2 separate regions of the Homo sapiens genome follow, and region 1 is linked to region 2. Evidence: fine-mapped expression QTL. A gene starts in region 2. The other region holds a variant in brackets. All regions are shown on one strand. Distances are from middle to middle.

Region 1 (8,341 bases), 700 kb after region 2:
ACTAGAGCCACCCTGACAATAGCCAGGTGCTCCTCTCTCCGCTTCCCTGGACACCAGCTAAGAAGCCGGTGAACAGAAACCACTGAGAAAAGCTGCACAGTCAGGTCCCCAGCTTCTCAGCTCTGCCCAAGCAGGGTTTCCCAACCTGTTCTCTATCTGGCATGAAGAGAAAATGATGATAGTATTTGTATGGCACACAAGGTACTTTGAGGGGACTGAGTGTGGGGTTATGTGGGGTGGGTCACTCTTGGCGCAGCCCTCCTGTGGCAGCAGACCAGCTGGGAATCTTTGTCCTAGGGATGTGTTTGCTGAATCATGGCTTCCATGGTTGTTGGTTGGTTTGTTTGTTTTTGAGACAGGGTCTCACTCTGTTGCCCAGGCTGGAGTGCAGCAGCGCAATCTTGGCTCACTGTAGCCTTCACCTTCCAGGTTCCAGCAATTCTCCTGCCTCAGCCTCCAGAGTAGCTGGGACTACCGGCACCTGCCACCACACCCAGCTAATTTTTATATTTTTAGTGGAGACGGGGTTTCACCATGTTGGCCAGGCTGGTCTCAAACCTCTGACCTCAAGTGATCAGCCCGCCTTGGCCTCCCAAAGTGCTGGGATTACAGGCGTGAGCCACCACACCTGGCCCATGGTGTTTCTTTGTCATTCTTCCATTGCTGAGAAGATATGGTTGCATCTCTCTAAGAGTTAAATATGTCTGTGGTATGACTCCACTTTACACAGATTCTACCCTTCATGAATTCTGCCTTGATTTTCTATAAACACGGCCCGTCTTTCTCATACAGTTTATGTGTAGTCTGGAGTCATGAACTTGGCCTGGCCCTTCAAGGAAAGGAACTGACTCATTCATACCTACCTTGGGGCCACCTGGCCCATGGTGGGTGTTCAAACGTGTCTCTGTTGAAGGAGTACATAAAAGGCGGCACCTTCTGGAACCCATTGCTTGATTGATATCACAACAGGGCTTTCTCTGCATCTAAAAATAATTTTTTCCTCTGTTTCTCTCTTTATAGGACTTCAGAAATGGGCTTGGGAACCAGCTGAGTTCAGGATCCCACACCTCTGCTGCATCTCAGTGTGACTCAGCGAGTTCCAGAATGGTGCTGCCCATGCCAAGGCTACATCAAGACTGTGCGCTGAGGATGTCCGTGGGCTTGGCTCTGCTGGGTCTTCTTTTTGCTTTTTTTGTCAAGGTCTATAATTAGAATACAACTAATGGAAACATCTATAAAGAAGAATACATTTCTAATTAAAATCTTCAATGAACAGGAAAGCGACATCTCCATTCTCCAAGGGCAATAATTTGTACTGGTCATGCTGCCTCCTTCTCAGCCACTCTTCTTAATGAGGCTCCCCCTGTCTCACATTGAGTTGGGCCCATTGGTTATTTGACCTAAAACCTAATCACCGCTACCATAGCACATCCTTCAAATTAAACTGCTTTTGGTTTACTTTTAGCAAGAAATGCAAGCGGTTGCATTTTTTTCTGTTTGTTTCAATCTCTAATCTTTAAGTCAGAACCTAATTGTACAGTGGCTCTGGCCATCTTTTCCTCATGTGGAAGAATTTTCTATCTTTAATAAACTTTTTCTTTGTTTTTTTTTTCCAGATGGAGTTTCGCTCTTGTCCCCCAGGCTGGAGTGGTGCAGTGGCACGATCTCAGGTCACTGCAACCTCTGCCTCCTGGGTTCAAACGATTCTCCTGCCTCAGCCTCCCAAGTAGCTGGGATTACAGGCATGCGCCACCAAGCCCAGACAATTTTTTTGTGTTTTCAGTAGAGACGGAGTTTCACCATGTTGGCCAGGCTAGTCTCGAACTCCTGACCTCAAGTGATCCGCCCGCCTCGGCCTCCCAAAGTGCTAGGATTACAGGCGTGAGCCACTGCGCCCGGCCTCTTTAATAAATATTTTTAAGTGCATCTTCCCCTTCAGGCTTTGTTTGGAGTCCCAGTGCTACAAACATTGTATTTTTCACAGCAGATGTGTTCCTGAAAAGTGTATAGAAACCTGTTCTGGGAACCTGAATGCTTTTGGAATGCACGGGGAGAGTCTGCCAGCTAAAGGACTCCTGGCAACATTCTGTGAAATATGAAACTGGAAAACTGGATTTGTCGAAAACTAATTGTGCCCATTTTCTCACATTTTTGATCCATTGGGGTTTTTTTTTTGTTTTTGTTTTTTTTTTTTTTTGAGTCAAGGTCTCACTCTGTCACCCTGGCTGGAGTGCAATGGCACTATCTTGGCTCACTGCAGCCTTGACCTCCTGGACTCAAGCAGTCCTCCTACCTCAGCCTCCCTAATAGCCAGGGGCTACAGGCATATACCACCATGCCCAACTAATTTTTTAATTTTTTGTAGAGATGAGTGTCACTATGTTGCCCAGGCTTGCCTGGAACTCCTAGCCTCAAGCAGTCTTCTTGCCTCAGCCTCCCAAAGTGCTGGGATTACAGGCGTGAGCCACTCCACCCAGCCCAGATTAAATGTTTTTATTTCTACCTGCCATCATTGGTCTTTACTAAGTGAAGTGACTTCTTTCTTTAACAATAAATAGAATTGGTATACTAAGCAAATCCTATGTTTTTGAGAATTTATTTGGATTGCATAGGTACAGGAAAACCAGGTACCGTGTAGTTACCATAGGATATTTTCCATCTCGAAACCCATACCCCTCTTCAGCTCTTACATTTAACTCAAAATGTTTGTGTTTTGTGTGTCTTTTAAGGAACCCAAATTAAAATTCAGTCATGTCCTAGTTGGTAAATTATAAAATATATATGCTTTTAGTGTTAGTACATTTCTCCTGGAACTGGTATGTGCTTCTAAGAGGTGCTCACATTTAGAATGCAAAAATCCTCCTGTGCTGCTTCTAGTCCTGCAGTGAAACATCCACTTGGGAGCACCCCTCACTTCTTAGCAGGAATGAGAAGAGGACAAGAACCTACCATGTGCCTCCCTTCTTGAGCTCTACGCAGTCATTTCTTTGTTAATAAACAGTGGGTTCCAGTGTGGTGCTCATTTAACAAAAACCTAGCAGAGATAAAAATGCCATCCAAAGCCTAGAGTTGCACTAGATCAGACATAGAGAAAGCTTTACACCTGTAACTGATTGGAGACAAAAAGGATTTTTTCTACCTCCCTTTTCTCTTTCCCTACTCTTTTCCTCACTCCCTCATCTGTTTATTTCCTCCCTTCTAGCTCTATGCTGTCCTCGCCTTTTTTCATTTTTTTCTTCCTGTAAGAGAATGATACACCCAGTCATCCAAATTCCCCCCCTGCTGCTCTCACCTACCATGGCAGGGATCCTCAAGGATCGTTTCAGCTGTACAGGATTCTCCCTACTTCCTGCTGTGACTGTTATTTACCCTCAATTTGGCTGCAGCTTCACTCTGCCGTTTGACCCAGAAAGGGACCGAGGTCACTGCCCGCAGCAGACGCTGGACCTTCATGAAATCAGTCTCCATACTGGCGACCAATTGGTGAGAGGGGTAGCAGTGTTCTGGAAATCCAGGGTTTTTCTTCCCCCTGTGACCTCCATCTCTAGGGAGGGGGAGGGAGAGAGCAGAGAAGGATGCAGTGCAAGTTAAAAACAGTTTTCTTAAGCCCTGGACTCTGAATGGGGCTGAGTCTGGGAACCACGGGAGCAAGTGTGATCATGAGTAGAGCTGTTACTTTTCCAGCCTGTCTCCTTCCTGCCCACAGTGCAACTGCGCTTCTCCCGCCCCGCTGAAGTTAGGCACGAAATGTGAAATGTGAGCGGAAGGGTCACGTCCTTCTTCGGGGCAGACATGTTCAGAGCTGGTGTACGGTTTACTGTGTGCTCTTCCCACTGCTGTGGTGATCCTGGACCCATATGTCAGAATGACGCCTCCCCGACCCTGGGTCCCTGAGTTAGTACAGTTGAGTAGGGCTCCTGGCCAGCATGTGCTACATAGGCATCAGGAACCAGAAATATATTGTGGTTGTGTTAAGCCACCGGCATCTGGGGGTCGTAGCCGTAGCAT[T/A]CGTAACCTGATTTATACGAAGTGTCAGCCGTGATAGGATGCTTGACCCGCAGATTGTAAATGTAATTGTTATGTTTTCTTTGTATGCTTTTGTATGCTTTGCATTAGTATCAAGGGGTGTGTGTGTGTGTGTGTGTGTGTGTGTGTGTGTGTGTACTTCTCTGCTGAGAAGGAAACCTATGAAGTGATCTTTTCAATGCTTTGGCCAATTTTTTTCTTAAACTCTTTACTAGAATAAAACATACATATGAAATGGACATAAATCATAGGGATACAGGGATTTTTAAAAACTGAGCAAGCATTGTAGCCAGCACCAGGAGGCTCCCCATGTACCCTCCTAGCCATTAAGTCTGCCCCGCAAGGAGTAACCAGTATCCTTATTTCTAACATTACAGATTGATTTGCCTGATTCTAAACTTTCTATAAGTGGAATCATGTAGTATGCACTATTTCATGTCTACCTTCTTTTGTTCTACAGTGATTGTGAGACACATCCAGATTATTGTGTGAGCAGTAATTACTTCACGTTCATTGCTGAATAGTATTTCAGTGTATGAGTACACCACATTGTTCATTCTACATTTGAGTTCTTTCCAATTTTTTGTCTATTATGAATAATGCTGCTATAAACACGTTTTGTTAAGTGTTTATGTGATGATGTGAGGAGTACATGTCTAGGGGTGGAATTGCTGGGTCATAGCATTTGCATATGTTCAGCTTAGATACTGCTAAATGGTTTTCTGAAGTGGTTGTACCAATTTACATCCCCACCAGCAGTTGACATGAATTCTGTCATTCTCCCACTATTTTTTCTCTTTGGACCTTAGATATTCTTCAGCAGACCTTGTCTCTGCTGTCTCCCTTCCACAAGTCATTCCTATTTTAATAGTAATGATAATATTGACAACCATTAACTGTCTAGTCCTTAAATGAAATGCACTGGATGTTATACTTTGCACTTAACAGGTGTTAATCAGTCCTGAAGAAAAAATTTTGAGATACGTATTGTGATTCCCATCATACTGAGAAGAAAATCTAAAACTCAAAAGACTAAGTAACTTGTGCAAGAGGCACAGAGCTCTTAAGTTTAGAGGCAGGACTGGTACACAGCCTGACTCCAAAGCATATACTCCTCTTCTGTAAACTCCTCCTGCTCCTCTGTCCCATCTTTGACTTAAACTTGACCTGTGCCAACAGATACACATTTAGGATCAATCCTGTGGATGCCTGAGCTTGGGGGCCTTCAGCCTTTCAGTCTGTGTTGTCCTGCTCCAAGAATGTGCATGGTACTTGATATACTTTTTAAATAAAGATTTACTAATCAAGCTTTTTTCTTTGCCCTGCCCCCTCCTTCCTTCCTTCTTTCTTTCCCTCCTTTCTATTGTCCCTGCTTCATCTTATCATCCCTGCTTCCTTTCTTATCATCCCAGCATGAGATAGTCAGTTTGAGAATGTAAAGAATTCTTGGGTTAAAACTTTGCTTTGTTGCTGGGAAAATGTGTCTAAACATCAGATTTCCATATGTCATTCAGTCAAAACATATACTACTTCTACTGACTTCACTCCAGGTTGAAAATTTCAGTGTATATTGTAAGATGTCATGGAGGGAGAATTAGAGTTACAAATCAAGCTTCAAGAGGGTTTGTCATCATAAAACAAACATAGGAAAAAAATGAAGAGAGAGAGGGAGGGAAGAGAAGAAAGGAGGGGAGAGAAAAGGAAGAAAAAGAAAAGGAGAAAAGATATTCTTAAGGCTTGCAGCAACAACAAAAAAGGTAATCATATGAGATGATGGGTATGGTAATTCACTTGACTGTAGCCACCATTTTGCTGTGTATATGTGTATCAATACATGTTCACCTTAAATACTCACAATAAAAAATGAATATGTACGTTTTCTAAAAGGTTTGCTGGTCCCCCCAGGCACCCCAGGATGCTGTGGCACATTCACAGGAGCACCCTGGGATTCCTTAAATTTTTGGAGGGAACACAGCAACATCTGTCAGATACCAGGCCAACTACCAGCTCAAAATAGTTCACAGTTTTCAACGTTAGATTTCACAAATTTTGATGACACCATGTCTTTATAAAACTGGATTTTCAGCAATTGCTGTGATAAAAAGCAAGTATCAAGTGAAAATCAATGTGGAACAAGAAGTGAAAATTGTGATCATAGTCCAAGGTTTGAGAAGGGGTGCTGTACCCAACAGATGCACAGCTGCCATTAATAAGTAAAATTAATATGAAATAAAATATTAATATTTTTATCTAAGTTACATGTATTATTTTTTCAAACGGTTCTCATAAGATAGTAGGATATAAATGCTTATTCAGTTGTCAGGATTACCTATTTAAACAGAAGGTTAGCTGCTGCTTTTGGCCTAGGGGTACAAACAATCAAGAAAGTTTGAAAACCTCTGCTCTATGATACAACCTAATTTAAAGGATCCATGTCAAACTTATAATCTGGAGTCCTAATCCCTTCTCAAAATATTTTCCCCTTACTTTAAAGTTAGATTATCCATAGCATGTGTTTGATAAATTTACACTGGACTTGCCGTTGAGTTTGATTTTTATGATGTTGAAACTGTAAAGGAGTTAACAATCAGAATCACTTGGATTCAGCTCTCAGTTGTTTCCAATACAAATTTGAGGCAGAAAATATAAGGAAAGACCATGAGATTTTTGACATCAGCAAAACTTTAAATTCCAGCCAGACCACTTTTTCTTTTTGAGCCACATCTCTAAAACAGGAACAAGATTCCATTGTGGGTCATTGAAAGATAAGTGAACTCATGCATATAAAATACTGTATTCTTGACACATGACATTTCCTCCTCTTTTTTGATTACTGTAGCCACTTAAAGGTGAAAAATACCTTTATAAATAAAGTTAGGTGTTTTAAATTCTGATATCAACACATGACCACCCAAAAGATTTATATATGGAATAAAAAGATTCCTACCTTGAGAGAGATAGAGTCTGATTCTAACAAATGCAGCAAAGGAAGAAAAATTCAAAGGCAATGGACTGCAGCTGTATTTGAGGAGATCAAATTAATGAATAGTGTGGAGCACAGATTTGGGTGGCCAATCTAAGATCAAGAAGGAGATTTTCCATGGCCAAAGATGAAAAGAGCAACCAGATTAATAGGGAGGCCTAGAAGTCATGCCCTCCCCCATCCTGCTTTGAGACTAAAAGGAAATGCAGACACTATTATTCTTGATTAGTTTTCTGTCAATTATTTTCTCCCAGTACTGTTTCCTAGAGTTCTATAGCCAAAATATCTCAACGGTGTAGAAGCTGAAGCAAAGGATGTCACTTGGTGTCTCATGATCTTCCTAGCTTCTGGGTATCTGAATACATTTCTGAGCACTAATGATGCAAGTTCTCAGGAAAAAAAAAAGCAGGGGGATGGAGGAGAACAACCTTGGGTCAAGGTAAAGGAAAACTTGGAGTTCAGAAAAACCTAAAGAAGTATGAGTTTTTAACTCCGAGGTTTATCTAATCTGCTTTTAATATGCCCAATTAATCACAAACCAATAGATGTTATACTAGACAGTCTGATTCCAAAGCCCAATGCCTGCTTTCACCACTGCTGTTTACATTGTACTGGGAGTTCTAGTGAGAACTATTAGACAACAAAAAGAAGTAAAGGGCATCAAATTGGAAAGGAGTAGGTAACACTATCTCTATTTGCAGATTACATGATCATATGTATAAAGCATCCCAAAGAAACCACAGGAAAGCAACTAGAGCTAATAAATGAATTTAGCAAAGTTACAGACTATAAGACCAATGCAAAAAAAGAAATTCATTTGTGTTTTTTTACACTAGCAATGAACAATCCGAAAAGGAAATTGAGAAAGCAGTTCCATCTACAATAGCAGCTAAACAAATTAAACACTTAGGAATATATCTAACTAAGGGGGTAAAAGATTTGTATGCTGAAAACTAAAAATCATTGCTGAAAGAAATTTATGAATATCTGAAAAATGGAAAGGTATCGTATGTTCATTAATAGGAAAACTTAGCATTAAGATGTTAATACTACCCAAAGTGAGCTACAGATTAAACACACTCTCTATCAAAATTCTAACAGCCTGTTTTACCAAAATGGAAAAGCCAACCCTCAAACTCATATGGAATCACAGGCAACCCCAAATAGCTAAAACAATCTCTAAAAAGTAGACTAAAACTGGAGGACTCATGTTTTCCAACTTCAAAACTTCCAACAAAGCTACAGTAACTACAACTGTGATACCTGCTTAAGGACAGACAGAGACCAAAGGACTAGAGTAGAAAGCCCAGAAATAAATTCTCACATATGTAA
Region 2 (8,341 bases):
CCAGGCTGGTCTCAAACTCTTGGGCTCAAGTGAAACAACTGCCTGTGCCTCCCAAAGTGCTAGGATTACAGGCATGAGCCACCGTGCCTGGCCCCAGATTTTTATAATTTTCATATTTTATTCTTTATTGATTAGTCACTGAGAGGGTAAGAATTGTGTAACTTCTTTCTTGTCCATATTTTCTCTTCAATTTTTACTGTGAAGGCCAACATAAAATATTTAAGGCAAACAGATTTTTTTTTTTTTTTTGAGATGGAGTCTCACTGTGTCACCCAGGCTGGAGTGCAGTGGCGCGATCTCGGCTTACTGCAACCTCCACCTTCCAGGTTCAAGCGATTCTCCTGCCTCAGCCTCCCGAGTACCTGGGACTACAGGTGCCTGCCACCGCGCCCGGCTAAGTTTTGTATTTTTAGTAGAGACGGGATTTCACCATCTTGGCCAGGCTGGTCTTGAATTTGTGACCTCGTGATCCACCTGTCTCGGCCCCCTAAAGTGCTGGGATTACAGGCATGAGCCACTGTGCCCGGTCCAGGCAAACAGATTTTATTCCACTTTTCCTTGATCACTCTTTTGTTTTTTCTCTCCAATGCTTTTTCTCTATTTGAAATTTTGCACTATTGTTGCTTTCTTCTGAAGTATTCATATAGAGTTGTTAAAACAACTGAAGTCAGACTGCCTAAGCTTTAGGTTTCTTCTCTGTTAAAAGAGATAACAAGATAATAATAGCACTCCTCATTTATAGGGTTACTTATGGGTGGTTATTGGCACACATTTATAAGTGTTTGAAAAAATCTTAGCTTTACTATTATTTTATAGATTTACTTGCATTTTTAATGTTCTTGGTATACACCAATTGGTTTGTTTACTTATTACCAAATATTTATAAAGCATTTAGTGTTATATTGTTGGCTGAAAAAACAGGAACAAAATAGGATGGTGTATATTTATGAAGCTTAACTCTAATTTAAGAAACAAAGCATTATTTTTTTTTTTCTTTGAGACGGAGTCTCACTGTGTTGCCCAGGCTGGAGTGCAGTGGCGCGATCTCAGCTCACTGCAATCTCCGCCTTCCAGGTTCAAGCGATTCTCCTGCCTCAGCCTCCCGAGTAGTTGGGACTACAGGCTCATGCCACCATGCCTGGCTAATTTTTTGTATTTTTAGTAGAGACAGCGTTTTACCATGTTAGCCAGTATGGTCTTGATCTCCTGACCTCGTGATCCGCCCACCTTAGCCTTCCAAAGTGCTGGGATTACAGCCGTAAGCCATCGTGCCTGGCCTTTTTTTTTTTTTTTTAATCTTTTTGAGATGGAGTTTCGCTCTTGTTGTCCAGGCTGGAGTGCAATGGTGTAATCTCCGCTCACTGCAACCTCCACCTCCTGGGTTCAAGAGATTCTCCTGCCTCAGCCTCCTGAGTAGCTGGGATTACAGGCATATGCCACCACACCCAGCTAATTTTGTATTTTTAGTAGAGACAGGGTTTCACCATGTTGGTCAGTCTGGTCTTGAACTCTTGGCCTCAGGCGATCCACCCGCCTCGGCTTCCCAAAGTGCTAGGATTACAGGCGTGATCCACTGCACCCGGACTTACTGGTTGCTTTTCAAAGGTTGTACAGATACTATAAATATATTTAACCAATACTCTATTGAGGAGGAGCCGGAGAGGGTTTCCAGTCTTTTGCTATTGTAAGCAATGCTTAAAAAAATACTCTGGAACATAGGTCATTGTAAGCAATGCTTCAAAAAATACTCTGGAACATAGGTCATTGTAAGCAATGCTTCAAAAAATACTCTGGAACATAGGTCATTATGTATATTTCTGTAAGATAAATTCCTAGAGGTAGGGTTACTGACTTCAAAGGATTTAGACTAAAGGTGCTTAAAGAGAGAGGTTTCACCTGTTAGTTAGTTTTTGTAGCCAAAACTTGAAAACATCCTTTCTTCCTCTTTTTTCGTACCTATCAATCACCAAGTCTTGCTGCTGTTACCTCCTCAATTTGTTTAAATCTGTCCTTCCTTCCCATTCCTCCCAGCCAACAACTCAATTTAGGCTTTTACTATTTCTTCATGTCTGAAATATCGTCCTCAAACCCATTGTCCTGAGAGAATAATCTGCTCGAACACATTCATGTTGCCTACTACATACATCCAGGATTAAGTCTAATGCCTTTGAATACACAAGGTTCACCTTGATCTAGTCCCTGTGCTTCCCTTTCTCTGGTAGACTTCTCCCATCACCAGCTTCACTCTCTTTGCTTTTACACTGTGGAATAATTCATCATTTCAGGCCTCCTTGCTTTTGCTCTGGCTGACTCTCCAGCTTGGAATGCCTTCATCCATTTCCCTTACTTCACCTTTGTGTTCCTGTGCATTCATCTTTCATAGTGATTGCTATTCTCTACTGAAATGAATTTTTTCAAAATAGCCTGCAATTGCAATAGGCAGTACTTTTTTTCTTTCTTTTTAGCTCTAGCATCTATCACAGTGCTTGTGGTCATGGGGTACATACTCAGTAAAATATCTTTTACTGAACTCAACTAGATCTTGGGGGAAAAGGGGTGGAGTCATTCATTCATTCATTCATTCATTCAACATATGTTTATTGAGAAGCTATAAACATAGGCACAAGGTTATGTGCTAGGTAGTGCGATTACAACCAAGAAGATAACCCAGGGCCTACTTTTGGTCTAGTGAAAGAGATGGAATTAGATGGGTATGGTGGTGTGCACCTGTAGTCCCAGCTACTTGGGAGGCTAAGGCATGAGAATCTCTTGAGGCTAGGAGGGAGAGGTTGCAGTGAGCTGTGATGGTAACACTGTACTCCAGCCTGGGTGACAGAAGAAGACCCTATCTAAAAAAAAAAAAAAAAAAAAAAAAAAAGTAGGGCAACATAAATACACAATTTTAATTTAGGTGGGTAAAGACAACAGTGGACCCCAGGGCACAGTTTAGATTATTTTATGGATATGGATAAACAGAGAAAAGGGTGGTTTTTTTTTTTTTTTTTAAATCTATTTTAGAGACTGGGTCTCACTGTGTTGCCCAGGCTGTTTTCAAACTTCTGAGCTCAAGTGATCCTCCCACATCAGCCTCTTGAGTAGATGGATGGCATTTTAATTAGATGAAATTGTACTAGGAAAGGCATTTGCAAAACAAAGTAATTGCCCCAAATCACTATGAAACCCTAAGTCAGGCATAAAACTCACGATTTCTGACCCTTCTTCATGGCCTATTGCCTCCTATTACCTTTACTTTTTCAAGTAAAGATATTCTTCTGGTAAACACATGGTCAAATACAGTGTCTTGGGTAACGAATAGTAAAGTGAGATAACATATGTAGAGAAAGCGGGTGAGAATCCGTACTCCATAAAAGTATTTTCTTTCCATAGGTGTCTGCTAAACTGCCATCTAAGTTTTCCAAAACAAAAAACAAAAACACTTGTGTGGTGCTCAATGATGTATATTAAGTGAAACCTACCAACTGACCTTTATCCTTTCCTTCCTGTTTTTTTAATATTAAAGAAGAGACCTCTTTTCACAAATGATTGAGGAGGCTAGTAAAATGCAGTGAAAAGAGCAAGTTCTTTGGGAGTCAGACAGCATCGGATCCAGCCCAGAGCGCAGCACGACTAGTAGAGTAACTTAGATTAAGTCCTTAAACTTCCAGTGTCCTCTTTTGTAAACTGGGAATAATAATAATAATAAATAAATAGTGAATAATATTTATGCAAAGTACTTAGCACAGTGTCTAACACATAAAAGCTTAGGAGAAGTTGGCTATTAAGCATTTCTAGGAACCCGAGGACTCAGGGTTGTTATTTTAGTTCTTGGAATCAAAGGAACTTGAAGCGTAGTCATTCCTAAACTAAGTTAAACCAGAACTAGCGCTTTCAGCAATGATGTAATTTGATCTCTTCGGGCCACCGTCGCTGAGCATGCGCAAATAAACGTGGCGGGACGTATGTGTCATGGCGCTCTCCATCTAAAGTCTGTGCAGCTTCCGGAGAGTGGCGGGTTGATTTTCTCACTTTGGACTGGTTTTTACTTCCCGACTTCTGGGTAAGGGTGGCCGATGGGTCCATGTGGGGCAGAGTGTGGCCACAGCTCCTTTTATGGCCAAGCCTTGTTTCTCCAGTTTCAGTTTTTCTTGGGCTGTTTGCAAATTTGTTTCGCAGTTAAAAGGGGATTTGCCAGCTGGGATGGGGGAATTGGGAGGCAGATGGGGCTTCCAGGAGCGAGGATAGGGTCGTTGGCCTCAGGTGCCGCTCTCCAGTTAGGAGTATTTTAGGCACCTCGTTCCTTATTGTCAGGTTTAACTTCATTTGTTCTCCCACTTTATACCTTAGTGAATTTGTAGATGTGACAAGGCTTTCGCAGTTATATAGCTTTCCCAGATCAGTATGTTAAGAATTTAAGCAGAAGTTATTGAGAAAAGCAGGTGTCTTGCTTTTTCACTTTTCGTTCTTCTTTGCTCATAAAACCTTTTTCTGAATCTCGGGACGACAGTTATCTTTCGGATGGAACGTGATCTGGATGTCTATCTACCTTATTGACTTAATCCTGTTTTGTAGTGGTTGGTTACTCGCACTATGCAGACGTGTTGCGGTGCTGAATACAACATTTATTACTAAAGCCAGACACTGGATCACCGTCACGGCAGATGTCAGCACACCTGTTGTAATCAGTAAGAAGTTACAAGTAGTATGGAGCATCATTAATCCTGCTGTATAAAGCAGTCTTTTATGGAGTCTGATTCCTTTTAAGTAAAGAATCCTTACAGTGGTTTTGTGAACTTTTTGGGTGCTTACTTTTCCTAATCAATTTTTATTTTCCAGACTCATCTTTCAAGAGGACTTTAGACTAATTGCAGATAATTAAGGTACTGATTTATTTTAAACCTTTTATGTTTGAGTGCTGTGCGTATTTCTGCATGTTAGAAAATGCAGAGAGGTAGCCTAATGTTTTAGCTATTTGCCACTATCATGTTATGGAAACATTGTGCTTTACATAGCATTAAATCGAAGAGATATTTTCATTTATTTTACTTAACCTTTCATTTTCATTCACCAGCATTGACCATGTCCACTTTTTTGAGATGCCCTTTTCATTTGCCTTCCATGGCCCATGGATTTTTTTCCTTGTCTGGTGGCTGCTTCTTGGAATCCATTATAAGCTGATTTTCCTTTATCTGGCAGTTAAATTTGGAGTCTCTCAAGTCGTGGTCTTGTACCTTCTCCTACCTCTGTTCTCTTTTTCTTCCCCTCTGGGTGATGTAATCCACATGCCTGTCAACAGTTATTTGTCTTTTTGATTCTACCCATCCTAATGGGTATGAAGTGGTGTATTATTGTGGTTTGGATTTCCATTTCCCTGATGGCTCATGATGTTGACATCTTTTCATGTGCTTATCAGCCATTTGTATGTGTGTGTTTTTGAGACACGGCTTCCCTATGCCACCCAGGCCAGAGTGCAGTGGCTCGATTACGGCTCACTGCAGCCTTGACCACCTGGTCTCAAGTGATCCCACTTCAGCCTCCCAAGTAGCTGGGACTACAGGTGCATGCCACCATGCCCGGCTAAATTTTACTTTTTTTTTTTTTTTTGTAGCGATAGGGTCCGTGTTGCCTAGGCTCTGGCCTTGTACTCCTGGCCTGAAGTGATCCTGCCACCTTGGCTTCCCAGTGTTGGGATTATAGGCATGAGCCTCTGCACCTGGCCCATTTCTGTATCTTCTTCATCTAATCTGTTTTTCCTTTTGTTGCTTGTGCTTTTCATTTCTTAGCTAAGAAAGAAGGGCCTACTCTAACATCATAAAGATTTGTGCTTATGTTTTTTTCTAAGAGTTTCATAATGTTAGCTCCTAAATTTAGGTCTATGATCCATTTTCGGTTAATTTTTGTATATGATGTGAAATGTGAAATAGGGCTCCAACTTTATTTTTTACATGTTGCTATCCAGTTATCCCAGTGTCATTTGTTGAAAAAAAAACTACGCTTTCCCCCTTGAATTGTCTAGGTTATGTATATTTGACATACATTCTAGGTGGTTTTTATGAAAGAATAATTCTGGGACAGTGATTATCAAACTTTAATTCAGATCAAAATCACCTAGAGGGCCTGTTAAATATTGCTAGGTTTTACTCAAAATATCTGATTTAGTATGTCTGGAGTGGAGTTCAAGAATTTTCATTTCTGGCTGGGCATGGTGGCTCATGCCTGTAATCCCATACTTTAGGGGCCAAGATGGGAGGAGTTTGAGACCAGCCTGGACAACAAAGCGAGACCTTGTTTTTACAAAAAAACTGAAAAAGAAAAAATGTTCATTTCTAACAAGTTCCCCATGATGCTACTCCAGCTGATGTGGAAACTACACTTTGAAAACCACTGGACATTGCTTTGCAACTGTGGCTGTACACACATGAGAATGACTGGAAAGTTTTTAAAAGATATTGATGCCCAGGCTCCATTCTCAGAGATTCATTCAGCTATCTTGGGGCTTAGTTGGGAATTTTCTTTTTTTTCTTTTGTTTTTGTTTTTGTTTTGAGACAGAGTCTCGCTCTGTCGCCCAGGCTGGAGTGCAGTGGCGTGATCTCGGCTCACTGCAAGCTTAGTTGGGAATTTTCAAAAGCTCTTCAGGTGAATAGAATGAGTGTTGAAGATTGAGAACCATTACTGTGGAATCGTGGTTCTTAATTAGGGATCTATAGTGGAATTACCTGGACAGTTTCTATGTTCACATACTTCAGTTCTACTCTTGGAGATTCTAATTCAGAATGGAACCTGGAGATTTGATATGATGAAAAGCTTCCCGCTGGGTGCAGTGGCTCACGCCTGTAATCCCAGCACTTTGGGAGGCCAAGGCAGGTGGATCACCTGAGGTTGGGAGTTCAAGACCAGCCTGACCAACATGGTGAAACCCCGTCTCTACTAAAAATACAAAATTAGCTGGGCGTGGTGGCAGGTGCCTGTAATCCCAGCTACTCGGGAGGCTGAGGCAGGAGAATTGCTTGAACCCAGGAGGCACAGGTTGCAGTGAGCCGAGATCGTGCCATTGCACTCCAGCCTGGGCAGCAAGAGTGAAACTCTGTCTCATAATTACAAAAAAAAAAAAAAAAAGCCTCCCTAATAACTCACCTATGTAAGTAACCACTGCTCTAGGATATTGCATCCTCCTTCTTCCTATCATTTTGAGTATTTTCCTTTTCACTGACTCTATTTTTATTCCCTTTATCAAATTTGATTTCCTCTACCTTTGAGAAAAATTTTTAATGATCCTTTTGCTCCATTTAGCTATTACGCTGCTTTCCTTTTATTCTCAAACTTTCATTTCCATATGATTTAATTAAAAATTTCTGAAGGCTAAACAATTCCCTCTATCAGTCTATCAGTTTGTTCAAAGTAAAACCTTTAGCTTATTAATAGTGATGAGTGAGATTATTTAGGTACTTATGATATACAGCCAGGTTTATGCTACATAATGCTGATATGCAGCGTTATATTTATCTTTTTTGAGTGAATATCTCCAAATGAAATTGCTGGCTCGAAGGATATACATATGTTTGGTATAATTGTCAGGTTGCCCTCCAGAAGGGGTGTACCAGTTTTTCTGTGCTTTCAGCTAACAGAGTTTTTGTCAGCTTTGTATCAGTGAGGCAGCTGAAAAATAACTTATTGTTTCAATACTTGTTGTTAGTGTGGTTGAGCATTCTTTCCTCTTTTTTTTTTTTTCTTTTCTGGGTATTTGTATTTCTTAAGTGAACTGCCTGTTTTTCCTTTACGCATTGTTTTCTGGAATGTGGTTACTTATTAGTGTCACATTAGATTCTTGCATTGTTTGTACTTTGCCAGTGAGGCAAAGCCATAGTGGGAAGAGCATGGTATTGAGAGGATGCCAAGGTTCTGATTTCTAGCTCTATCAATGTACAAATCCTTTTGCTTCAGTGGACTCCAGCTCTGTAAGATAAGAAGCTTAGCAACTTCTGCTTCTCTAACTCTAATGATATGGGATGTCTATTGCAGTGGATTCCTTTCATTCCTCTTTTTCCTTTCTATTTCTCTTCAGTGGATCCATACACACTTGTATATGGGATGGCAAAATTGTGTAATTAAAAAATATGGCTTTTAATTAATGTTATTTAATTATTCATGATCTGTCAGTAGTTCTTCCGCATTCCAAAGGCACTACCTGGTCCTAGCCTCTCTCATTTAATTATTTCATAGAAGAGTGGTGATAGAAGAAATCCTAGGGGTTGGGCATTTACTTCAGCTTCCCACCCAGTGTAGAATTTCCTGCTGTGTCATAGAAAGACTAGCTAAATTCAACTTAAGCATTGTGTTCATTCA

What was found. PIP is the estimated chance that this variant, and not a neighbour inherited with it, causes the effect.
Region 1: its variant is fine-mapped to the expression of CDKAL1 in whole blood (TOPMed, PIP 0.95).

Annotation. Positions count from the first base shown.
Region 1 is chr6:21,229,828-21,238,168 of GRCh38, forward strand. It overlaps CDKAL1 (CDKAL1 threonylcarbamoyladenosine tRNA methylthiotransferase), which reads left to right. Exons shown (of 16, transcript NM_017774.3): 16 at 1,021-2,577. The coding sequence ends at 1,212. LOC107986578 (a long non-coding RNA gene) reads right to left here and starts at 1,232. Exons shown (of 2, transcript XR_001744021.2): 1 at 864-1,232. RefSeq lists an enhancer at 394-1,593. The variant T/A (reference allele first, on the strand shown) is at 4,009.
Region 2 is chr6:20,530,518-20,538,858 of GRCh38, forward strand. It overlaps CDKAL1 (CDKAL1 threonylcarbamoyladenosine tRNA methylthiotransferase), which reads left to right and starts at 3,940. Exons shown (of 16, transcript NM_017774.3): 1 at 3,940-4,057; 2 at 4,834-4,877. RefSeq lists enhancers at 3,869-4,028, 4,059-4,138.